Linked DNA regions of Homo sapiens. The protein of the gene in region 6 purifies or fractionates together with the protein of the main gene of each other region. This does not show direct contact. Each region holds a gene or a part of one and is shown on either strand. Other genes may lie near its edges.

Region 1 (3,500 bases), on a different chromosome or scaffold from region 6:
ATGAGCCCCAGCTTGTAAATTAATTGTGTTCTAAAAGTGCATAAGTTAGCTGTTTTAGAAATTACTTGCTCAAAGAAATAAATGATAAATAATGGCTAATTTTCTAAGTAAGCCTACAGTAGTTGAGTTTCCTCATAATACAGTTGAAATATTATATATTTTATAGTTAATATGTTATATATTATATATTAAACATACTTAATGTTATATATTATATATTAAACATATTTAATATGTTATATATTATATATTAAACATATTTAATATGTTATATATTATATATTAAACATATTTAATATGTTATATATTATATATTAAACATATTTAATATGTTATATATTATATATTAAACATATTTAATATGTTATATATTATATATTAAACATTTAATATGTTATATATTATATATTAAACATATTTAATATGTTATATATTATATATTAAACATATTTAATATGTTATATATTGTATATATTAAACATATTTAATATGTTATATATATTAAAAGATATAAGCCAACTCTGAACCTGTGGTGTCACCTCTTTTTTATTTTTATTTTTTGGGACGGAGTCTTGCTCTGTCGCCCAGGCTGGAGTGCAGTGGCGTGATCTCAGCTCACTGCAAGCTTTGCCTCCCGGGTTCACGCCATTCTTCTGCCATAGCCTCCTGAGTAGCTGGGACTACAGGCTCCTGCCACCATTCCCGGCTAATTTTTTGTATTTTTAGTAGAGACGGAGTTTCGCCGTGTTAGCCAGGATGGTCTTGATCTCCTGACCTCGTGATCCATCCACCTCGGCCTCCCAGAGTGCTGGGATTACAGGCGTGAGCCACCGCGCCCGGCTGGTGTCACCTCTTAAATCATAGGGTAGTGGACACGTGAAGCTATTTAGGGTGTTCTTGGCATGAGTTATTTAGCACCATCCCCAAGTCATGTGGCATTAGGAAAATACTTTGGATTGTATAAGAATGACCTAATTTCCTAGGCACCTGGTTAGGGGAAAGTATCAGAATGTAGAAATTGGCCAGGCGTGGTGGCTCACATCTGTAAGCCTAGCACTTCGGGAGGCCAAGGCTGGGATCACCTGAGGTCAGGAGTTTGAGACCAGCCTGGCCAACATGGTGAAAACCCCGTCTCTTCTAAAAGTACAAAAATTAGCCAGGCGTGGTGGCTACTTGGGAGGCTGAGGTGGGAGGATCGGTTGAACCCAGGAGGTGGAGGTTGTAGTGAGCTGAGATGCTGCCACTGCACTCCAGCCTGGGCGACAGAGTGAGGCTTTTTGAATGTAGAAATTGGCTGTTAAGAGGAAGATGATTTTTAGGCTGAAGAAGTCGTTCTGATTTCTGTTTGTCTTAGTGGTACCAGTTCCTGCTGTCATATTTGGTAGGACTTAAGTCCTGTTTGCCTGCCTGTCATCCAGCTAAGTAGACTGGATGGAAAAGGTGGGCTGGGTGGGGAATTAGGAAAGACAGAGGGAATGTCATAGTAGTTTTACTTAAATTTTAAAACATATCAAATGAAAGGTTACGGTGAATTTAGTGAGTGTAAGTCAAATGCTTAAAGAAATAAGCCATGGTGTGAGAATCAAAGCATGAGAAAATAGTATGAAAACTGGAAACACTGTAAGAAACGTGATTTTGTATTGTCTTCCAAATATTTCAAAATTTCTAGAAAAGCGTAAATAAATAAAAACATGATAGATGAGAAAGAAGGCTTATGATCATGATTCAGTGAAGTAACCTTTTTTAACCATTACTAATCTTGCATAATTAAAATAAAATAGAATGTGATGAGATGGGGAATATTGACTGGGGTAAGTGTAACCACACAGCAAATATTCTGTTGTCAAAAAGAACAGTTTTTGTAATTGAAGGATGAGAGCACAAGTCAGTGTATCCATTGTGCAAATTGGATATTTATGCCAGGTAACTGATTAATATATAAAATGATCTATGTTTAATAGGTATGAATGGCTGGATCCAAGCATTAAGAAGACAGAATGGTCCAGAGAAGAAGAGGAAAAACTCTTGCACTTGGCCAAGTTGATGCCAACTCAGTGGAGGACCATTGCTCCAATCATTGGAAGAACAGCGGCCCAGTGCTTAGAACACTATGAATTTCTTCTGTAAGTGAGTCTTCAGAAAGAGCATAGAATATATGTATATGTTCTGAAAGAGGCTGAATAAACTTTGAGTATTTTCTGTCTTTAAACTTTTAATTATGGATGTGAGTAAACCCAAAGCTAAAGCCATTGGATAATATTTTCCATATCTCAGATGGTTGATCAAAATTATGCCTTCTGTCATATACTTCCTAAAATAATAATTTAAAAGAATTATACAAGTCATGCATGTTCATCATAGAAAATCTGGGGAAAAAATAGTAAAAGAGCAAATAAAAGTCACCCATAATCACACTGCTAAGAATTAACTACTGGAACATTTTGGTTCTTTACTAATAGTTTTTTTTTTTTTTTTTTTTTTTTTAAATTTGTATGGCTGTACCGCATTTGTGATTAGGATCTGTTTGGGTTCTATTTTAGAGTGATTGAAACCAGTCACTGAAATCAGCAAATTTTAATATCATTTCTTTCAGATGAAGTGATAGTAAAAAGGCTTTATGTTGTTAAAGCCCATCCATTGGTTTTTTTGGGGGGAAAAATATCGTCAGAACTTGGAAATCTGGTAATTTTAACTCTAAATGGTACTGTAGTGTGACTAACTCCTATGGGCTTTTTTCTAGGGATAAAGCTGCCCAAAGAGACAATGAAGAGGAAACAACAGATGATCCACGAAAACTTAAACCTGGAGAAATAGATCCAAATCCAGAAACAAAACCAGCGCGGCCTGATCCAATTGATATGGATGAGGGTAAGTGTATGCTTTGAGGAATTTATTTCTTTGGTAACTGTAAACTCCTTGGGCCTCACTCTTTTAGTTCCTTTCTGAACTCCTCTACTTTAGAATCCCTTTTTTTTTTGAGACAAGGTCTTGCTCTGTTACCCAGGCTGGAATGAAGTGGCACAATCATGGTTCACTGCGGTTTTGACCTCCTGGGCTTAAGCAATCCTCCCATCTCAGCCTCCTGAGTAGTTGGGACTACAGGTTTATGCCGCCATACCTGGCTAATTTTTAAATTTTTTTGTAGAGATGGGGTCTCCCTGTGTTACCCAGGCTGGTCTCAAACTCCTGGGCTTAAGCTATCCTCCCTTTTCTGCCTCCAAAAGTGTTGAGATTATAGGTGTGAGCCACCATACCTGATCCCCAATTCTGTCAGCAGTGTTCTTATTCTAAGTATCTTTCCAAATATGTCCAGTGTTTTCTGTTATAGAGTAGTTGCTTTTTCTGAACAGCGCCCCTTCATCTTCTGTTTCTTCAATTCAGTTAATTAAGTTAATTAAGTGTTACGGGGTGTGGTGGTATGTGCCTGTAGTGCTAGCTGCTAAGGAAGTTGAGGTGGGTCGATCTCTTTAGCCCAGGAGTTGGAGGCCAGTCTGGGCAAC
Region 2 (3,327 bases), on a different chromosome or scaffold from region 6:
CATCACAGGTGGGTCGCCCCAGTTTTTTTGTTTTTTGTTTTTTTTTTTGAGACAGAGTCTTGCTCTGGCACCCAGGCTGGATGGAATGCAGTGACTCTATCTTGGCTCACTGCAACCTCTGCCTCCCAGGTTTAAGCAATTCTCTGCCTCAGCCTCCCGAGTAGATGGGATTACAGGCACCCGCCACCACGCCCAGTTAATTTTTGTATTTTTAGTAGAGATGCGGTTTCAACATCTTGGCCAGGCTGGTCTCGAACTCCTGACCTCATGATCCACCCGCCTCGGCCTCCCAAAGTGCTGGGATTACAGGCGAGCCACCACGCCTGGCCTGGTTGCCCCAGCTCTTAACAGCGTCAGCTACCAGGTTCTCAGGTCCACGGACATCACATACCTCCGAACTCCAAAGGATGCCCATGATTCTACATCAACAGGGCCCTTTATGTTTCAGGAAGCTCAAGTTTATTTCTGATACTTGCAGCCAAACTGACCTTGCCTGAGACAGCAAATGACAATGAGGAGACCGAATGCAGGAGGCTCAGAGGGCAGAGGCTGCCTCTGTGTTGCTCAACTAGAAGCCCGGCACACAGCTGGTGATCCAATAGGTACTTGCTGAATCAGTAAAAGAGTGAACAAGAGCAACAGCAAGCAGCAGAAGCAGATGAGCGAGTGACATTTACAACCCCAGCATGCGTCACTGCCAAGCTGGGCGCCCAGTACACTGAGCTCAGTGAACTCGGGGTTATTTCCACTAAGAGGAGTACAATGAGGCAGGAAAAGGGGACCCCCAGCTAGCAAGGGCGGACGCCAGCATGTGGGCTCAGGCCTCTCCAGGCTGGTGCCCCTGCTCCTCACAGTAACCCAGAACGAGGAGGCAGGCAGCTGTCAGAAATGTGATGGCCACAAGAGAGAGAAGCCGGAGATGAGGACGCGATGGGAGAGGTGGGCCGGCAGGAGACAGAGAAGCAGAAAGCAGCAGAGAAGGGAGAACAAGGCCACCAGGCCCAGGGCCCCCGAGAGCCCGTCGAAGGCAGGATGTGCTCACCTAGCCGCCGGGGCCTCCAGCCCTTCACGGTTCGGCCCCTCTCCACGTCCACAAGGACCCTCCTGCCATCAATCTTCTTGCCATCTGCGTGTTTGTAAGCGGCTGTAACAGATGTGGGGAGGGGGAGGGGAGAGGAGTCCCCAGAGGGTCCTCTAGTCAGGACAGGCCCAGCTCTACAGAATCCCCGCCCCGTGTCCCCATCATCACGCACACGCACACGCCCAACAGACAGCCAGGCAACTGACAGCCAGACCAACCCTCTCCCAAACCGGTGAAGGGCCTGCTCCATCTCAGCGTCTGCTTCCTCTCAGCGCCCCAACCACTCCTGGTCGGGGGAGACGTCCACCCTCACCCGCCACCCCCTAGGCTCCCCGGCCCTTCCTCTCCCACATGATGGAACAGCCCCCTCCCGCCAGGGCGGCCAAAATCGCTGCAAAGAAACTGAAGGTTAACTCCACGCTGGACTCTGCTGTGGGGGAGGGGGCTCCTCCACAACCCCAAGCATGCACCCTGAGACACCAAGCCGGGGCAGGAGGCCCAGCTGGGACGCTCCGCACCCCAGACCACACCGGTTTTTTCTGTTTTTGTTTTTTTTGGAGGGGGGTGAGTGTGGGGGGAACAGACATCAGAACAGAAAATGAACCAGAAGGGGGTGGGAGAAATCTTCAGGAAATGGCAGGGAGCAGAGAGGCGGGTTATACACTCCCAGGGGGCCTGGCGGGGCCCCTGCAGCAGGGGAGAGGGGCAGTGGAGGAAGCATGGGGAGCCGTGCGGTGCTACTGAAAATCCCTGCCTTACCTGAGACGACTGACTCTGCCTCCCCCCAGCCCTGCCCCATCTCGCCCTCCACACCCCCGGCTCAACACGTGCTGGGAGCGCACCCCAGCCTGAGCCTGCCAGGAAAGGGGAGTCGTAGAGGGGAGACGGGGGAGAGGCTCACTGCTGCTCTCGGGCAGCGCGTAGCAGAAGGCAAGCCTGAGGCCCTGGCCTGTGATCAACGTGGGGCTGTCATGAAGGCCAAAAAGTCCCCGTTCCCCCACCCAGCCCTGGCCTAGGGGGCTGTCCTCAACCAACCGTAATACCCTGCCCCGCCCCAGCCCGCTCCCCCCCAAATAACAACCAGAGGAAGAGAAAAAGGTGCCATTTACCGATGCCGGCCTTGCGGGTGTCCAAACCGAGCGGGATGGGGGGGGCTCGGCAACTCCTGGGGGCCTGGCGAGGAGGCGGGCTTCCCGGGGGGGGGACACGGGACCGCTTACCTGGAGCCCCCAAGCTTACCTGAGCACGCGCACAGACCCCACACCCACCACCACGGGGTCAGCTAAAGCTACAGGGAGGGGAAGTGGGGGGTTCTAGGGAGCCAGGAGAGGGAGAGGAACCACATCTCCTGTACCACCTGGAGACAGGCAGAGGACGTGGTAGACCCCAAAGAAATCTCAAGGAGGCCTTAGAGTGGGGGAGACGAGGATTATCATCCAAGCTGGGCGCTGGAAAGCCCTGGACTATCTCGTGTGAATTTACAAAGAAGGCTAGGGAGGCCTCAGAAACCTGTCCGCCCTCACCAATCCCCGAGTCACACTGAACTAGGCACACAGCCCACCCCCTCCGAGGACCAGGAGTGACTTCTCCACCTCCAAATCCATGCTCCCTCCCACCAGCTGCGTCTGCAGAGGCTGGCACACAGGGGTCCAGGAGACGGTGCTGCCCGTGCTCTGAGGAGGGGCCGCTTGGCCCCTGAACCCACGGGAGGGGAGTGGGGAAAGGCATTTAAGGACCAGGATCAAAGTCAAGCGAAGGAACCCCGCTCGGGTTCAGAGTCCCAAACCCCAAAACAGGCCCATCCCGGGAGGAACAGCAAAGAAAACATGTGATTGTGTTCGTCTAGGCCTCTCTCTCTCTTTCCCTCTCTCAAGTCTCTAGACAGTGGAAGGTTCTTTAGTAAAAACCTACGACACCTTCAGCTGCTAGCAGCCTACCCCTTGGTCCCTCCCACACCCCAAGCCCCAATTCCATGCACTTTAGGGAGCTCCTGACCACCTCTGGAGAGCTGCTGGACACCACAGCCAGCCCCCTCGGGAGGCCTCAACCACAGTAAGGAAGACAGAAAGGGGGCAGAGCACCCCAAAACTAGCAGCCAAAAAGACTCTCCAGGGCCAGCACAGTAGCAGCCCCATAGAAAGCACGGGGGCAGGGAGGGAAGGCTGAAGGGCTCCAGTGGAGCCCTGGCCTGGAGCCCTGCCCTCGGTGTTCCTGCCACCTCGCCGCTGACATCACGAAGCCGGGTC
Region 3 (3,500 bases), on a different chromosome or scaffold from region 6:
CGCCCAAGTCCCTGATCTCACCTGGAAGAGGAGGCTCTGCTGGCCCATCTCCGAGTCTCTCTGCTTGGTCACTGCAACACAGAAAGCTCTCAGGTCCCGGCTGCTTGTCCTCTCCGAAGCTGAGGAACCTGGGGCAGGCTAATGCCACCCACTGAACGAGAGCGGGACCCCGGGGGAGGCCCTGCAGCTCTGGCAACCATTAGACAATCTCCGCCCAGGCTCTGGGATTCTGGTATAGGTGAAGGCACAGGTGCGCCAGAGCTGAGCTACCTGCGGAGTCACTCAGGCAGGGACCGAGGATGGTGCTCCTTTGTCCCAATCCCCAGAGCCCTTCACCAGGGGTGCTGGGATACCACCCAGCAGGAGTTGGGGCCACTGGGTAGGGAGGGGCCCTCGGCACCCTGGCTCTGGGATTCGAGCGGGGCCGCCTGAACAGGGCTGACACCATGTATACGGTGAGCGAGAGAGGATGCCCTTCCCGCCAGAGCTCAGCAGCCTGGACCCCGAGAATGGCTGCTGGGCTGCCTGCCGCCCGGCCACTCTCCATGCGGCCTCAGACACGCACACTCACAAGCCCTCTGCCGCCTCACCGTCCTGAGCCCAAGCCCAGGACCTGTCAGGGCCTCCCCACCAGGAGCCTGCCGCTCTAGCCACCCTCGCCCACCCGGTGCACCTGCCCCGGGACCTCTGCCCTGCAGGCTTCTGTCTGGAGGCCAGGCACACAGGCTGTCCCCGCCTTCTGTAAAGAACACTTGCTGGGTAGCGTGCCCGCCTTCCTGAACCCTATGGACACAAGTCTCTATCTTCCACCCTGGTCACTTCCCCAGCTTTCTGAACCGGGGTCACCTCTAGCCATTCCCACTGCTGAGGGTCCGGGAGGAGCTGCCTCTAACAGCCGCTTCTCCCTGTCCTCCTTCAAAGGCTTCAAGGTTAACCGGAGGGATGTGCCAGGGCTCACCACACCTCCACTTCCACTCTTTTGCTTGGCAAGAATTCCCAGAAGCTTCCACAAGACCCGGACAGGAGGGCACAGACTGTGGCTCAGCTGGGAAATGGGCTGCTGGGTGAGATGGGTGCTTATCGGGCCCAGCCTGACAGCTCCCAGACACAACGCCAGAGGCTGCAGGTGGGTGAGGGACGGCCACCAAGGCCGGAAAACAGTGGCTCAGGGAGGAGGCTATCAGGGCTGCACCTCCCGCACTGGAGACTAAAGAACACACTTATGTCACGGCAGCGGCTGTGGCCGGCCCCGCTGCGGGCAGACTCACCTTTGTAGCCCGGGCGGCCGATCTTCACAAACTTCTTCACCTCCACCTTGACCTTCTCAGGCGCGGGCTGGGCAGGGGCCTCCTTGGCCTCCTTGGCTGCTCGCCGGGCCCTGCGGACAGGATGGAGGTGCTGCTGGGACCCCTCCACACACAGGCACCAAAGCCATGGGCCCAGGTGCCAGGAGCCCCCTGACCTTGGAGCTCACTACAAGCTGAGAGATGAGGAGGGCCAGGGGCCTGGGAGGGGCCCTGGGGTTTGGCTGAGGACAGGGATAGGACAGGCATGTTCTCTTCCTGTCATGCTCCTCACTGTCCCTGGCTGGGGCCCTTCCAACAACTCCATGCCTCTGCTCTTTTTTTTTTTTTTTAATAAGACAAGAGTCTCACTCTGTCGCCCAGGATGGAGTACAGTGGCAGCACCTTGGTTCACTGCAATCTCTGCCTCCCAGATTCAAGATTCTCCTGCCTCAGCCTCCATAGTAGCTGTGATTACAGACGTGTGCCACCATGCCTGGCCTAATTTTTGTATTTTTAGTAGAGATGGAGTTTCACAATGTTGGCCAGGCTGGTCTCGAACTCCTGACCTCAAGTGATCTGCCCGCCTCAGCCATCCATGCCTCTGTTCTCTAATGCTCCCCAGGAACCGTACTCAAGCGCCCAGGGAGGCTCAGGCCAGGCTGGCTCCCCGGCTGTGGAGCAGTGGCCCGCGAGGCTCACAGAGACTTGAGCCAACGGCTGCTGGAGCACCAGGCATCAAAGGGACATGAGGTACTCACAGGTTGGTCTGGTGCTTCTTCCCCTGCGTATGTGCCAGGTAGCTCCCCTGGAGTGGAAAGGAAACACGCATGACTCGAGGCCGGGCGGACAGACACAGGCAGGTCCCCCTGACGTCAGCCACTCAGCCCGCCGCGAGCCGCCCGGAGCCAGGCAGAGGCCGCACCTCATTGTTGTGAAGTGTCAGGCAGAGTTTGCATTCATAGGAGCCCAGGTGGTTCTTCATGAAGTACGGGTCCTGGAGGGGAAGAACAGGGGCCCGTTAGACAGAAGATCGCGGCCTGCTGCCGTCAAGGCCCTCAGAGGCGGGATCCCCTTTCTGTAGAGGCATGGAGGCAGAACCCCCCTTCTGTAGAGGCATGGCTACCGCTGACAGTGGTCAAGCATTTCTGAAAACGGGGGATCCAGCGGGAGGCCTTCGTGAGCACGGGTGTCACCACCTGGGGCTGTGGGCCAGGCTTCGAGCAGTGGGGGTTCCCAGGGAGCCCCCGACACCACCTTCCTGGTGGTTCTGAGTCAGAGGGAGGCACAGCCAGGACAGCACCGCCGGTCACTCCCGAGGCAGGGAGCCGTCCACTGCCCACGCCACCACGCCAGCAGTAGGCACAAGGCAGACACAGGCACAAGAAAAGCAAATGGGCTACACTGAAGACCCAAAGACCCGCCCATCTGCAGGCCCTAAGCTGGGGCAGCCGGGCGCACACATCTCGTCTCAGACGCTGGAGTTCAAAGTCTAACTCCACCATCTGCGGCTGTGGCACCCCCTCTACCCATGACCTCATCTGGAAGACGGGGACGGTAACAGAGCCCTTGCCATAGGCCAGGCCCGTGGGGCATGTCAGGGTACACAAAGAGTGCTCCAGCCCCGATGTCCACGGTGCTGAGGGGACTCGGCTCACCCCTGCCTCTGCACAAGCTAAAATCAAAGGCTGCCCTTCACCACATCTGGCTGGACTGACATCAGCTCTCCCCACTCCCAGAAAATTAAATAATGCAAAACAGAAGGCTGTGGACAGAACAAAACATGTCCACATGGGACTCAGAGCCACAGAGGGTCTGCTCTCTGGGGTGGACAGATGGGAGCTGTGGCTGCTCGGGGGCAACAGGGGAGCGTCTGGACACGGGGCTGCATCGCCCAGCCTGGGCGGAGGCCCAAGAAGAGCCTCTGGCACCCTCTCCAGGGCTGCCCTGGAAAGCCCAGCACCCACCACAGGCAGCTGCACGGTGGCTGGCCCACCTTGTTGATGTCGATGGTCTCCAGGGCCAGCTGCCGGAGGCGCTCCCTGCGGTCACGGTTGCTCTCGGAGGAGGAGGCCACGCCCCCGCTCCCGGTCTTGCCCCCGGGGCGATGCTGGAAGTCCATGGTGATGGCCTTAGGGCTTTAGCAGACTGGGAGACACCTGTGGAGGCCAAGAGGAGAGTGAGGAAGATGGCTCAGAACTCGGGGCTGCTGCTGGG
Region 4 (2,344 bases), on a different chromosome or scaffold from region 6:
CGCCCCATGATTTCAGCAGCACCAAGTTTCCTGTATTAAATTCCTTTCTGTTTGAACTACCTACTGTGGTTTCTCTGGGGCCATTGCTACAACAGGCTGCACTTTTGAGAAGAGTAAAAAAAAGGTGAAGAAACACCTCTCCCTGAACACTCTTGTCATCTGTTAGAAAAGTGGTGGCATAAACTTGTAAGCCTACAAAGTGAATGGTGTGCCCTTAAAAGGTGCCATTCTTGTGCAGTACCCATCCTGCCTAACTGTACGCGGCAGCCCTGACTTTCCATTTCCTGACCCAGGATTCCATTTCCTGCTGTGAATTGGGACAACATACAAAACTGCCAAAGTAGTCATTGTAACCTGAGTTTGAACAATATTACTACACTATCCTATGTTTCCCCAAGGTTGCAAACCTCAAAATGCCAAGAGGTCCAAAAACCCAGGATGTGCTGCTGAGGTGGAGGGAAAGGAACCATGAAGAGCAAGAAAATCAGACAGACAAATGATTGTGAAAAACCAAACCTCAAAAAGCCACTTTAATTCCGGCCTAACAGCGCCAGGTGCAATGTCTGGGGACAGACTCTGGGTACAATGCTGTGTGGCGACCACTCACTCACACACGGCTCCAAGAAGGCCCCCAAGGGGGGACTTACCTTCAGGGGGCTGAGCCAAGGGGGAAAGGGGTGGCCCCAGAACAGGGGAAGGGGCAGGCATGGGGGGAAAAGGTGCTACTTCTTGGCAAAGGAGATCTTCATGGCGTTGTTCTGCGTGATCTTAAAGCCCTGCAGGGCATCGCGAGCTGCCCCTGCCTGTACCTCATTGTCAAACTCCACGAAGGCGATGTCATGCCGCCCGGGTACCAGACGGACCTCCTTGAAGCCAGGGAACCTGAAAGAGAACGACAGACCTCAGGGACTCAGCATTTCCCCCTAACGTAACGGCATCAAGTGGACAGAGGCCAGAAATGATGCCAAATAGCCTCCAATGCACAGGGCAGGGCCCCATTACTCAGAATTATCCAGCCCAAAATGCAGATAGTACTAAGTTGAAAAACTCTAATGTAAACATAGCATTTAATGAAAAATTTAAACACAAACACCCATGCAACTGCAACCTAAATCAAGAAACAGTACACCGCAGTCTCCTGGGCCCTTCCTAAATCATAACCCACCCGCCACACCAAAAAAATAACCAATACCCTCACTTTTTCCATTTTTATTCTTGTATTTTTAGGAGAGAAGGGGTTTCACCAAGTTGCCCACATTGGCCTCGAACTCCTGACCTCAAGTGATCCACCTGCCTCAGCCTCCCAACATACTGGGATTTTAGGCGTGAGCCACCGCACCCGGCCTTACCCTCACTTTTCTGATATGCTGTTTCTCTAATTTCCCTCTTCTCATTCCATACTTCTTTCTCCATTAAGCAGCCATCCTCATGTTTACTAGGTATCCTTTTTTCCATCGGCATTCTCACAAAATATACAGCTTTGTGGACAGGCTGCACATGTGGTATTGTTTTTCTGTATTTTTCAGGTTCTCACAATCTTCTCTCGGCACTATTATAAAGTTGCGCTTTCTGTTCTTCTAAGTGCCACGCAGTGCAGCATGGTGAGATGCTGCATGTAGCCATCCCTTCTCCCAGACACCCTCCAACTCCCCACCACAAACACTGACGAATGCCCCACTCACAGCCCCTGAAACAGAACCACCAGATGAACTCACCCACACCCACGACTTCACTCAACAATGGTGAACAGCCCCTCTACACATCGGCTGCACCGGCCTCCACCCTGACGCCAGGCACAAGAGTTTCACGCATCCCCATCTCCCACACTTGCTGTTTCTGAGCACGCTGACTTCTGCCAGTCTTAGCCAATGTTCAAGGACATCTCAATGCAGTTTTACACATACCTTGCCTTGCATGCCCCCATTTTAGGGGCTGGGAAAATGAGGCCCAGAGCCTGGACTCCCTCAGCCCTCAAACAAGGCTGAAAAAAGCCGGCAAGCCCTGGCCATGGAGACCTTTCCAGCCTCACCCCCATGTCCCCCACAGGCCGTGGGCCCAGCCACAGCCTCCTCCTTTCACATCTTTGGTCGCTGTCCCTTCTGCAAAGCCCTACTTGGCTCAGAGCTCTGCTGGCAGAGTTCTGAGGCCTGTTTCCATGGAGATGCCTCCTGGCCATCACCCTCCAGGGACCACCCAGCCACAGGCCCCACTTACTGATTGAAAAGCATGGACAGCATGAGCTCGTTGGTCTCCTCTGGCAGGTTGGTGAGGAACAAGATGTGATTCGGTGGATTCTCAGAAAGCTGCGGGGGTATAGGGGAGTCGGTGAGCACAAGAGCCCTGA
Region 5 (3,500 bases), on a different chromosome or scaffold from region 6:
TGGCTTAAGAAAATGTTTTCAAGGAATATGACATGTGAATGTCTGATTAATTAGGTAGAATTATACCAGACAACACCCCCTCCCCTAACACATACTCATTCCTCTCCTATTTTGGTAGCATAATATTTATTTCAGTGGTGATGGAGTCAAGACATTTGCAAGAATAGCTTTTGTGCAAGCTTTTAGCCCCAATGTCCCTCTAAGTTTATGTCAAAGAAGAGGCAAATAGATGCAGCAAATTGTGTGGAGGAAAGATAAAAGGAAAAGAGATTTTATATGGTTTATAATGGGAGACTACAATTCGGATATTCCCCTCACCACTCCTACCTAGTTCTAGTGCCCATTTTGACAACTCAGAGAATTACTCACTTTAAACATTTAGTTAAATTTCTTTATATTTCAGAAAGTTTAAGAACTGAAAATTACATTTGAAAATTGAGTTAACTTAAAATGTTTAGAATTTGTACAGCTATGACCTCTGATCTTCTCAGAGTCAACTTTTTTAAACTGACCTTTTAATTTATATGAAATTTTTATATAGAAACAACAATGCCAGTGACTTGAAAGTATTGCATTTTATAAAATTACTGAGTTCCCTGTAATTATTAATACTTAAAAGTTTTCATCTTTATGCATTTTTTTCTTCCATAAATTTTTGACTTATAATGTAACAGCTTGTTGACCCATTTGTTTTTTTCAGCCCTCATGATGTATTGGCTACACTTCTGAACAACCTCAAAGTTCAAGAAAGGCAGAACAGAGTTTGTACCACTGTAGCAATAGCTATTGTTGCAGAAACATGTTCACCCTTTACAGTACTCCCTGCCTTAATGAATGAATACAGAGTTCCTGAACTGAATGTTCAAAATGGAGTGTTAAAATCGCTTTCCTTCTTGTTTGAATATATTGGTGAAATGGGAAAAGACTACATTTATGCCGTAACACCGTTACTTGAAGATGCTTTAATGGATAGGTAAGTGACTTGAACTAAATACAAGAAAATAATTATAACTCTTCCTTCATTTTAGAACATCGTGAAATAGTTATTAGATGACTTTTTACTGTAACATAGTTAAAGAAAAAATTGCTAGCCTGGAGTCTTAGGACATTGTAAATATGACTTATTATTTTAAAATAATGTGCACGCTGTAGTGATTCCCCAGACTTTCTTTCAAGTTCTCCCATCCCCTTTAAATCTCTTTTCTTATCTATTGAATTAAATAAATTTTGAAAAGGGTTGATTGATAATCTTTTGTTTTCAAAATTGGTCAAATATAGTTAGAGGACATGATGAGCAGAAGCTAATGGGCAGAGACCTGATCTTTTTAGCTTTTTGTTGCAGGTAAAGGACAGGTTTCTCTTAAGCCTTTGAATTACTGAACAATAGCCTGCCAGAACTACACTCTTCCTGTTGCAGGTCCCTGGTGTTTCAGATGGTGACCACCAGTAGAGTACTGTTCAAGTTATTTGACAGATTGCTAATACCTTTTACCATCTAGACTGACGTACAGCCTTAAACACAGAAGTAACTGAAGAAAGTGCAAAGGAAAGTGCAAGCGTAGTAAGGGAAAGAACTGTTTCACTGGCTCTTTATTTTTCAGGAGAGATAAGTTACTCAAATCAGAGCCCATTCAAATACTTTTGTGTACAGATTTAAGTTATTCATTAATAACCTTCTGAAAGGGAGACTTAACTGGACTCGACAAGTTACCAGAACGTATATATGCAAGACATGGAGACAAAGTAAGAATTGTGCTCTGTAAAAGCCTGGCTGCCCAGGGCTAAAAAAAATGAGGGTAAATCACCCTTGCTCTGTATTCCTTAGTGAGAAGTGCCTGAGCACCATAGTGCAGTCATTAATGTATGTCACCTGCAGTTAAAAACTTTTTTCTGTGTACTAAGAAGTTAAGGGAGTAATTCCATTGAAAATTACTAAATGAAAAGAATACTTCAGTTGGAAATTTTATTAATGAGGAATACTGCTTCATTCTTATGCTGAATGACATTATTAAAATAAATAGGAAAAACAAGAATATTAGTAAATACAAGTATTTTTCTCTTTTCTCTTTGATATGGTCTGTGTTACTATCTTTGGAGCAAAGTGTGGAAACTCATTTTTTTTTTTGGACGGAGTTTTGCTGTGTCACCCAGTCTGGAGTGCAGTGGCATGATCTCGGCATACTGCAACCTCTGCCTCCCAGGTTCAAGTGATTCTTCTGCCTCAGCCTCCCAAGTAGCTGGGACTACAGGCGTGTGCCACCATGGCCGGCTAATTTTTTGTATTTTTGGCAAAGATAGGGTTTCACCGTGTTAGCCAGGATGGTCTCCATCTCCTGACCTCGTGATCTACCCGCCTTGGCATCCCAAAGTGCTGGGATTACAGGCGTGAGCCACCGTGCCCGGCCTGGAAACTCATTTTCATACCCATTGCAAATCCCATTGTGTTAGCCAGCGAGCTCATACTTGGTTGAATAATTGTGGAATGAATAACTCATTGATTTTTCATGAACATAAATTCAGTTAACATAGGAGATGATAGTTATTTCTGTAGGTTTGAAAAAATTATTGATCTTTTGTTCCTCTCCCCAAATTGAGTTATTGAATGAAACTTAAACTTTACGTGAGAAGGGAATTTAACTTTAATTTAGTTACCTATTATATACCAGTATCTGAAGTACTAGTAAAGATTTAAGTTTATAATCAAGAGTTTAAAATGATTTGGGAGGCCAAGGTGGGAGGATCGCTTGACCCCAGGAGCTCAAGACCAGCTTGGGCAACATAGCGAGGCCTTCCCTATCTCTAACAATAACAATAAAAAAGAAAAATAATTTTTCTTTTTTTTTTGAGACAGAGTTTCACTCTTGTTGCCTAGGCTGGAGTGCAGTGGCACAATCTCGACTCACTGCAACCTCCACCCCCCAGGTTCAAGTGATTCTCCTGCCTCAGCCTCCTGAGTAGCTGGGATTACAGGCGTGTGCCAAAATGCCCTACTAATTTTTGTATGTTTAGTAGAGACGGGGTTTCACCACGCTGGCCAGGCTGGTCTTGACCTCCTGACCTCAGGTGATCCATCTGCCTCGGCCTCCCAAAGCGCTAGGATTACAGACATGAGCCACCATGTCCGGCCTGAAAAATAATTTTAAAAAAGAGAAAAAAGTTTAAAATATTACTGTTTATTATTCATATGTTAGAACCACATGCCTCCTCTTTAGTAGCATAATAAAGCCAAGACTTCACAGAGCCCTCCTGCTCATATTCCTTTTAAAAGTTAATTAGATGGCCAGGCACGGTGGCTCACGCCTGTAATCCCTGTACTTTGGGAGGCTGAGGCGGGCAGATCACAAGGTCAAGAGATCGAGACCATCCTGGCCAACATGGTGAAACCCTGTCTCTACTAAAAATACAAAAATTAGGCAGGCGTGGTGGCACACACCTGTAATTCCAGCTACTCAGGAGGCTGAGGCAGGCGAATTGCTTGAACCTGGGAGGCAGAGGTTGCA
Region 6 (3,500 bases):
GATCTTGGCTCATTGCAAGCTCTGCCTCCTGGGTTCACGCCATTCTCCTGCCTCAGCCTCCCGAGTAGCTGGGACTACAGGCGCCCGCCACCACACCTGGCTAATTTTTTGTATTTTTTTTAGTAGAGACAGGGTTTCACCGTGTTAGCCAGGCTGGTCTCAATCTCCTGACCTCGTGATCTGCCCGCCTCAGCCTCCCAAAGTGCTGGGATTACAGGCGTGAGCCACAGTGCCCAGCCCCACATCCAGATAATTTTTAAACTTTTTTGCTTTTCAGAAGAGACAGGGTCTAACTATTTCTGAAAGAGGATAGAATAAAAAGTAAATACTAAAACCCCAAAACAGGGCAGGTGTGGCTTAGGCCTGTAATTCCAATACTTTGGGAGGCCAAGGTGGGAGGATCGCTTAAGTCCAGGAGTGCAAGACTAGCCTGGGCAACAGAGTGAGATCCTCTATTTATCTTTTCCGAATCGTTGTGGTGTGCTTTTGTGTGTGTGTGAGACTAGGTCTCACTCCGTCGCCCAGGCTGGAGTGCAGTGGCACTCCATAGCTCACTGCAGCCTTGACTTCCTGGGCTCAAGTAATCGTCCCAACTCAGCCTCCACCTGAATGGCTGGGACTACAGGCATGTGCCACCACATCCGTCTATTTTATTTTTTTTACAGACAAAGTCTTGTCATGTTGCCCAGGTTGGTCTTGAACCCCTGGGCTCAAGTGATCCTCCTGCCTCAGCCTCTCAAAGTGTTGGGATTATAGGAGTAGCCACCACATTTTGTCCCACCCCACTTTTATAACAGAAAATGTTATTGAACAAGCAAGGAAAAGTGCTAAGAGGATGTTCTCATTCCCAAAAGGCAGAATGACTGGATCTGGGAAGGACAGGCAAGCCTCACAGCCTGAGATGTGCTGAACAAACTAAACTGTGCTCAGAGTTCACCCACCACCAGCTTTAGCTACGCCACAGTCTGCTGGCTCTTATTCAATGTGCCTAGGTTTTGATAGACCCAGTGAGGCCTCTACATCCTGTTACAGGCTAAATTGTATCCCTCAAAAAAATTCATTGTTGAAGTCCTAATACCCAGCACCTCAGAATGTGATCATATTTAGAGACAAAAAATCTTTACAGGCCAGATGTGGTGGCTCATGCCTGTAATTCCAGGAGTTTGAGAGACTGAGGCAGCAGGATCACTTGTGGCCAGGAGTTTGAAACTGGCCTGAAAAACATATCAAGACTCCGTCTCTACAAAAAAATTTAAAAATTAGCCAGGTATGGTGGGGCACACTGGTAGTCCTGGATACTTAGAAGACTGAGGTGAAAAGATCTCTTGAGCCCAGAAGTCCAAGGCTGCCCATGAGCTATGATCAAACCACTGCACCCCAGCCTGGTCAACAGACCAAAGCTTAATCTCAAAAAAAAAAAAAAAAAAAAAAAAAGAAAAGAAAAAGGAAAAGAAAAAAAAGGCTGGGTGCAGTGGCTCATGCCTGTAATCCTAGCACTTTGGGAGGCCAAGGTGGGCAGATTGCCTCAGCTCAGGAGTTAGAGACCAGCCTGGGCAACATGATGAGCCTCCATCTCTATTAAAAATACAAAAAATATTAACATTAGTGGGGTACGGTGGCCCATGCCTATAACCCCAGCTACTCAGGAGGCTGAGGCAAGAGAGTTGCTTAAACCCGGGAAGACGGAGGTTTGCAGTGAGCTGAGATTGTGCCACTGTACTCCAGCCTGGACAACAGAGCAAGATTCTGTCTCAAAAAAAAAAAAAAAAAAAAAAAAAAAAAAGGCCAGGTGCAGTGGCTCACGCCTGTAATCCTAGCACTTGGGAGGCTGAGGCAAACTCAGGAGTTTGAGACCAGCCTGGGCAACATGGGGAAACCCTATCTCTACTAAAAATACGAAAAACTAGCTGGGCATAGTCCCAGCTACTCAGGAGGCTGAGGCATGAGAAGTGCTTGAACCCAGGAGGCAGAGGTTGCAGTGAGCTGAGATCATGCCACTGCACTCCAGCCTGGGCGACAGAGTGAGACTCTCAAAAAAAAAAAAAAAAAAAAAAAAAAAAAAAAAAAAAAGCAAGCAAGCTGGGCATGGTGGCTCACATCTGTAATCCCAGCACTTTGGGAGGTCGAGGCGAGCAGATCACAAGGTCAGGAGTTCGAGACCAGCCTGGCCAATATGGTGAAACCTGTCTCTACTAAAAATATAAAAATACAAAAATTAGCTGGGCATGGTGGCAGATGCCTGTAGTCCCAGCTACTCAGGAGGCTGAGGCAGGAGAATCGCTTGAACCTGGAAGGCAGAGGTTGCAGTGAGCCAAGATCGCGCCACTGCACTCCAGCCTGGGTGACAGAGCAAGACTGCAGCCTGGGTGACAGAGCAAGGCTCCATCTCAAAAAAAAAAAAAAAAAAATTCTTTATAAACATAATTATGTTAAGATGAAGTCATTAGAGTGGGCCCTAATCCTACATGCATGGTATCCTTATAAGAAGAATCTGGACAGAAACACTACAGAGGGAAGACCAAGTGAAGACACAGGAAGAGAGCCATATATAAGCAAGGAGAGAGGCCTGAAACAGATCCTTCCTTCACATTCCTCAGAAGAAACCAGCCTTGCCAACACCTTGATCTCAGACTTCCAGCCTTCAGAACTATGAGAAAATAAATTTGTGTTGTCTAAGCTGCCCAGTCTGTGAAACTTTGTTATGGTAGCACTAGCATACAAATACAAGCAGGGAGGCAGGTGGCTGTCCCCCACCATTGGTCAGGCATGGTTCCTTCTGAGGCCAAGGTGCTATTTTTATCCCTGATTTAGAGGAGGGACCAGAGGATGAAGGAGGTCCAAAGCTAAGCTCGCCCCAAGTCACCCTAGGGGGCAGGCTACAAGCTGATTCCAGGTCTGTCGGACACCAAGGTCTGTGCACTTTGTGTCATGTTGACTGCATCTCTGAATGGCTACCAAGGTTATCTGGTTAGACACCTTCACGTTACGGATGGGATGACAAAGGCCCTGGAAACCCAGCAAGTTGTCCAAATACATACAGCTAATTGAACAAACCCATTAAGCTTCACTAACCCAAGTCTTGCATTCTCCTCACCAAATTAAAGAACCTTAAAGTGGATGAGCATGCCTTAAGCCAGAGGACTGGATATATGAGAGATGATAAACTTATCTACCCTCAATAGATAAACTGATCTATTGACAGTAATGCAATAAACCTGAGTCACCAGAGGTCTACTTCTCTGCATTCAGGGAACTGACCAAGCTTGTCAACCTCGCAGGAAGATGACAGACGCTCAAAGCTACAGAAAAATCACAAATAAATGAACCCTGCAAACCAATGGATGGTCAGGATGCCTGACCGCGGTGTAAGGTGCTTTACCTCTCTGACCTTCTCATCTGGAAAAAAGCAATAGGTATCATATGTTGAACACTCACAGTATGTGAGGCACTGAGCAGCTATGGCACACATACAGCTCATCTGATCTTTGTAAAAGTCCTGG
Region 7 (3,500 bases), on a different chromosome or scaffold from region 6:
TCCTGTTCCAGCCTGCCAAACCCTGGACTGTCCTGGGCTGCTTACCTAAAAGCTGCCTCATTCTGTTCCAGCTGGACAAGGTCCAGTGTGTTCCCTTGAATGGGATTCATCACTCGGATCACAGAGGCCCACTGCCCATTGCCAGCCTTGGGAGCTCCAAAGATGGATTCAGGGAGGTTTTCATTGAGGAATGCTGCTGCCATCTCTGCGGCCAGCTCCCGCTCATCCTCCCCTGCTGCTTCCACCATTTCCTAAACCCAAAAAAACGAGTAACTGAGTTGGCGTGCTCAGAGGTAGGGGCTGGCTGAGAAGAGGATAGGTAGCAAGAACACTCCAGGGGGTTCTCAATACATAAAGCAGCAAAGTCAGCCATCCCAGCCAGGATTTCCCGACATGACTATTAAAGGGAGAGGTGTACAGACTAGGGAAGACAGAAGATCAGAAAGGGAAATCCAGACATTGCTGGTTACATATTAGTAGAAAACACCAAAAATAACAATAGCTGTGACAAATATTGGACTAGTGGCTTGAGAAAAATGACAACGGAAACTCCACTTTTCTATCCAACCCATCTGATTTCCCTTACTAAAACTACTCTGTCTCCACTCTTTAAGGATGGATACAGTTCTACGTGGTTGTAGCTATTTGGTTTCTGCTAGGCAATGAGTTCTAGAAAGAGCTGGTGTTGTGGAGAACATGAAAGCTGTCTCTTTTGGGCCCAAATAAAGGAAATACAGTCTATTTTGGAAGCTCAAGGACGGGAGAATTCTGTTTCAGAGAGGGAACTTAATTGTGAATAAATGGAGGTCAGAGTATAGTCCTGGGTTACAAGAAAGGCTCTAAAATGAAGTACTTTGGGGCAAAGGCCTCTGCTTAAAAAAGCTGAAAAAAGCCTAGATCTTTAAAAACAAAGAATATACTAACAATTACAGGAGTTTAAACTTTTGATAGAGTCTCGTGTCCAGAGTGCCACTGGTATGCAGTGGCATGATCATGGCTCACTGCAGTCTTGAACTCCTGGGCTCAAGTGATCCTCCTGCCTCAGCCTCCCAAGTAGCTGGGACTACAGGAGTGCACCAACACACCAGGCTATCTTTTAAAATTTTTAATAGAGGTGCAGTTTTGCTATGTTGCCCAGGCTGGTCTCGAACTAGTGGCCTCAAGCAATCCTCCCACCTCAGCCTCCCAAAGTGCCGGGCAGTTTAAACTTTTCAACATAATTTCACACATCTTTTAATAGAACCCCTGAACGTTAGTCTCATTACCTCTGCCATCTGCTGCTTTCTCTGAGCTTTCGTGGCCTCAGTGTAGGCATTGTGGTCCGTTTCAATGATAATAAGGTTGTTACTCTCAGGGTGGATGACAAATTTCCTGGGTGTGTACTGCAGTGGGAAGGCTACTTGATTGAAGACAGCACCGAGCTTCTCTAATGCCAAAATCCTATGACAAAAAAGCAAGGCAGTTATTTAATACTCACTCGGACCCAGAAACTGGTGTTGAAATAGACTTTGAGCAGTCAGCAAACACGTCAATCCCTGGAGCTCTAACGTTGGCATTAGGCAACATTAAACAACAGCCTCCTACTCTAGAAAACTCTGCGATGCAGACACAGAGATCCAGGAAGGGCCTTCCCATTTGGCAACACCCTACCACAATTCACAGCAGTTCTAGTTCCTACCAATGAAACACAAACGATTGTCAAAAGTTTTTTTTTAATCACTCCAATGATAATAAAGAGCCCAATCCCAAATTTGTTGTGAAACACTGCAATTACCTAAACATATATGGTATTTGTAGTGACTGTGCTTCATAAAATAAAGTGGATACCTTTGTGAACAAAAATCACCTCAGTTCAGGAAAACTATGACAATGCAAGAGACAGCAAATAAGGGACCTACAAATTTCTGTCAAATGGGACAGAGATGTACACATAAGCCAAACTATGTGCAAAATGAGCAGAACCCAGGTACTCTGAAAAGTATAGTTACCCGATCTCTAATGATGGAGTTTTATTTGTAGTTTATTCTCTACATTAAAAAAGATAGGGGCTGCGTGTGGTGGCTCACGCCTGTAATCTCAGCACTTTGGGAGGCCAAAGCAGGCAGATCACCTAAGGCTAGGAGTTCAAGACAAGCCTGGGTAACATGGTGAAACACCAACTCTGTTGAAAATACCAAAAAAAAAGCCATGTATGGTGGCGCACGCCTGTAGTCCCAGCTACTTGGGAGGCTGAGGTGGGAGAATCTCTTGAGCCCAGGAGCTCAAGACCAGCCTGGGCACCAAGGTGAAATCCTGTCTCTATAAAATAGAACACAAAAATTAGCCAGGCATGATGGCATGCGCCTACAGTCCCACCAGGTACTTGGGAGGTTGAGGCAGAAATAGCTTGAGCCCAGGAAGTTGGGGCTGCAGTGAGCCATGATCACACCACTGCACTCCAACCTGTACAACAGAGTAAGACCTTGTCTCAAAAAAAAAACTTAAAAATAAAAATAATTAAATAAAAAAATAAACTGCCTGCCAAGAACTCTGCTTTTATGTCTCATAAGTCACCTTCCCTGATTTAGTTTTGGGGGGAAGTAAGTTCTGCTGCTAGGAAAGCCTAAAAATCTGTAGCGATTGTCTAAATCTATAGCAATTCAGGAGGTAGGGGCCACAGATGAGGCTACAACAAGGCTGGCTTAAAAGACAAGGGGAACACTGACAGGCAGGTATGTATGTGGGTGAAGCATTCTAGCACAGGTAGAGATTAAAAAAATATTAAGTGATGTAGAGCAGTGCAGGGAGATCAATTCTGCTGGAGCAGAAGATAAATACAAAGATGACGGAAAGAAAAAGGACAATGACCATGAAAAGACCCTGAAAGTTGTTGCAAAGAAATTTTGGGAGCTCATTTGATAAGCAATAGTGATTAATCTATCAAGAGGCCATAGTTTCATTATGAACAGCCAATAGTTATAACCAGGATGTGAACAACTTTGGTGGCTTAATTTTAAAAGCCCCCCAAAACCTGAGGAAGCCAAACTGACTGAATTATTTTAGGTTCTTTTCCATCTTGCAAAGAATATTACATACAGTGCTCAAACTTCACATCAATATTACCAGGAAGAACAGTTTTGTCAACTTGAAAAAGGTCTAAATAACTTATAGATAGGTTAACATTTAAGATTTAATACCGCAAATGACAAGACAGAGTAAGAAAGGTTATCAATGCAGTGATCCAATACTTGCTCTAAAACTAATCCAATGGCAATACCCTTTTGCTAGAAAACAAAAATCTGAAATCTCAGGAAGATTGGACTGTATTAAAGCTTGGCCTTGAAAATCTTAACAGAAGCTAAAACACCGAAACTTGGCTCTCAGGTACTAAAATGCTGAGCCAAATGAAGGTTTCAATTGCAACACACAAGCTTCATGGTGAAGTCGGCTCTCTGCCACCTCTTCACAGCCTCCTCCAACACTCTGGCAGAACCAGTCTGAGCCCTTGGCAGAAAGGCTTC

Evidence for each region.
Region 1: the proteins of SNRPD3 (region 6) and CDC5L purify together in Homo sapiens (affinity purification with mass spectrometry; 3 studies listed by BioGRID and IntAct, with this or other methods). This does not show direct contact.
Region 2: the proteins of SNRPD3 (region 6) and SNRNP70 purify together in Homo sapiens (affinity purification with mass spectrometry; 7 studies listed by BioGRID and IntAct, with this or other methods). This does not show direct contact.
Region 3: the proteins of SNRPD3 (region 6) and SF3A2 purify together in Homo sapiens (affinity purification with mass spectrometry; 4 studies listed by BioGRID and IntAct, with this or other methods). This does not show direct contact.
Region 4: the proteins of SNRPD3 (region 6) and SNRPA purify together in Homo sapiens (affinity purification with mass spectrometry; 3 studies listed by BioGRID and IntAct, with this or other methods). This does not show direct contact.
Region 5: the proteins of SNRPD3 (region 6) and SF3B1 fractionate together in Homo sapiens (co-fractionation; 4 studies listed by BioGRID and IntAct, with this or other methods). This does not show direct contact.
Region 7: the proteins of SNRPD3 (region 6) and SF3B3 fractionate together in Homo sapiens (co-fractionation; 2 studies listed by BioGRID). This does not show direct contact.

The regions. Positions count from the first base shown.
Region 1 is NC_000006.12:44,390,706-44,394,205, forward strand, and holds part of CDC5L (cell division cycle 5-like protein), read left to right. Parts: intron 1-1,961; coding exon 1,962-2,123; intron 2,124-2,740; coding exon 2,741-2,868; intron 2,869-3,500.
Region 2 is NC_000019.10:49,102,451-49,105,777, reverse strand, and holds part of SNRNP70 (U1 small nuclear ribonucleoprotein 70 kDa), read right to left. Parts: intron 2,352-3,327; exon of another isoform or gene 2,191-2,351; intron 1,145-2,190; coding exon 1,043-1,144; intron 1-1,042. UniProt on the Homo sapiens protein: Component of the spliceosomal U1 snRNP, which is essential for recognition of the pre-mRNA 5' splice-site and the subsequent assembly of the spliceosome. SNRNP70 binds to the loop I region of U1-snRNA.
Region 3 is NC_000019.10:2,243,324-2,246,823, reverse strand, and holds part of SF3A2 (splicing factor 3A subunit 2), read right to left. Parts: intron 3,443-3,500; 5' UTR 3,406-3,442; coding exon 3,280-3,405; intron 2,281-3,279; coding exon 2,209-2,280; intron 2,092-2,208; coding exon 2,045-2,091; intron 1,379-2,044; coding exon 1,269-1,378; intron 72-1,268; coding exon 22-71; intron 1-21. UniProt on the Homo sapiens protein: Component of the 17S U2 SnRNP complex of the spliceosome, a large ribonucleoprotein complex that removes introns from transcribed pre-mRNAs.
Region 4 is NC_000019.10:40,763,546-40,765,889, reverse strand, and holds the end of SNRPA (U1 small nuclear ribonucleoprotein A), read right to left. Parts: intron 2,304-2,344; coding exon 2,215-2,303; intron 883-2,214; coding exon 723-882; 3' UTR 501-722; downstream 1-500. UniProt on the Homo sapiens protein: Component of the spliceosomal U1 snRNP, which is essential for recognition of the pre-mRNA 5' splice-site and the subsequent assembly of the spliceosome. U1 snRNP is the first snRNP to interact with pre-mRNA.
Region 5 is NC_000002.12:197,393,529-197,397,028, reverse strand, and holds part of SF3B1 (splicing factor 3B subunit 1), read left to right. Parts: intron 1-700; coding exon 701-973; intron 974-3,500. UniProt on the Homo sapiens protein: Component of the 17S U2 SnRNP complex of the spliceosome, a large ribonucleoprotein complex that removes introns from transcribed pre-mRNAs.
Region 6 is NC_000022.11:24,558,999-24,562,498, reverse strand, and holds part of SNRPD3 (small nuclear ribonucleoprotein Sm D3), read right to left. Parts: intron 1-3,500. UniProt on the Homo sapiens protein: Plays a role in pre-mRNA splicing as a core component of the spliceosomal U1, U2, U4 and U5 small nuclear ribonucleoproteins (snRNPs), the building blocks of the spliceosome.
Region 7 is NC_000016.10:70,561,816-70,565,315, reverse strand, and holds part of SF3B3 (splicing factor 3B subunit 3), read right to left. Parts: intron 1,441-3,500; coding exon 1,266-1,440; intron 252-1,265; coding exon 46-251; intron 1-45. UniProt on the Homo sapiens protein: Component of the 17S U2 SnRNP complex of the spliceosome, a large ribonucleoprotein complex that removes introns from transcribed pre-mRNAs.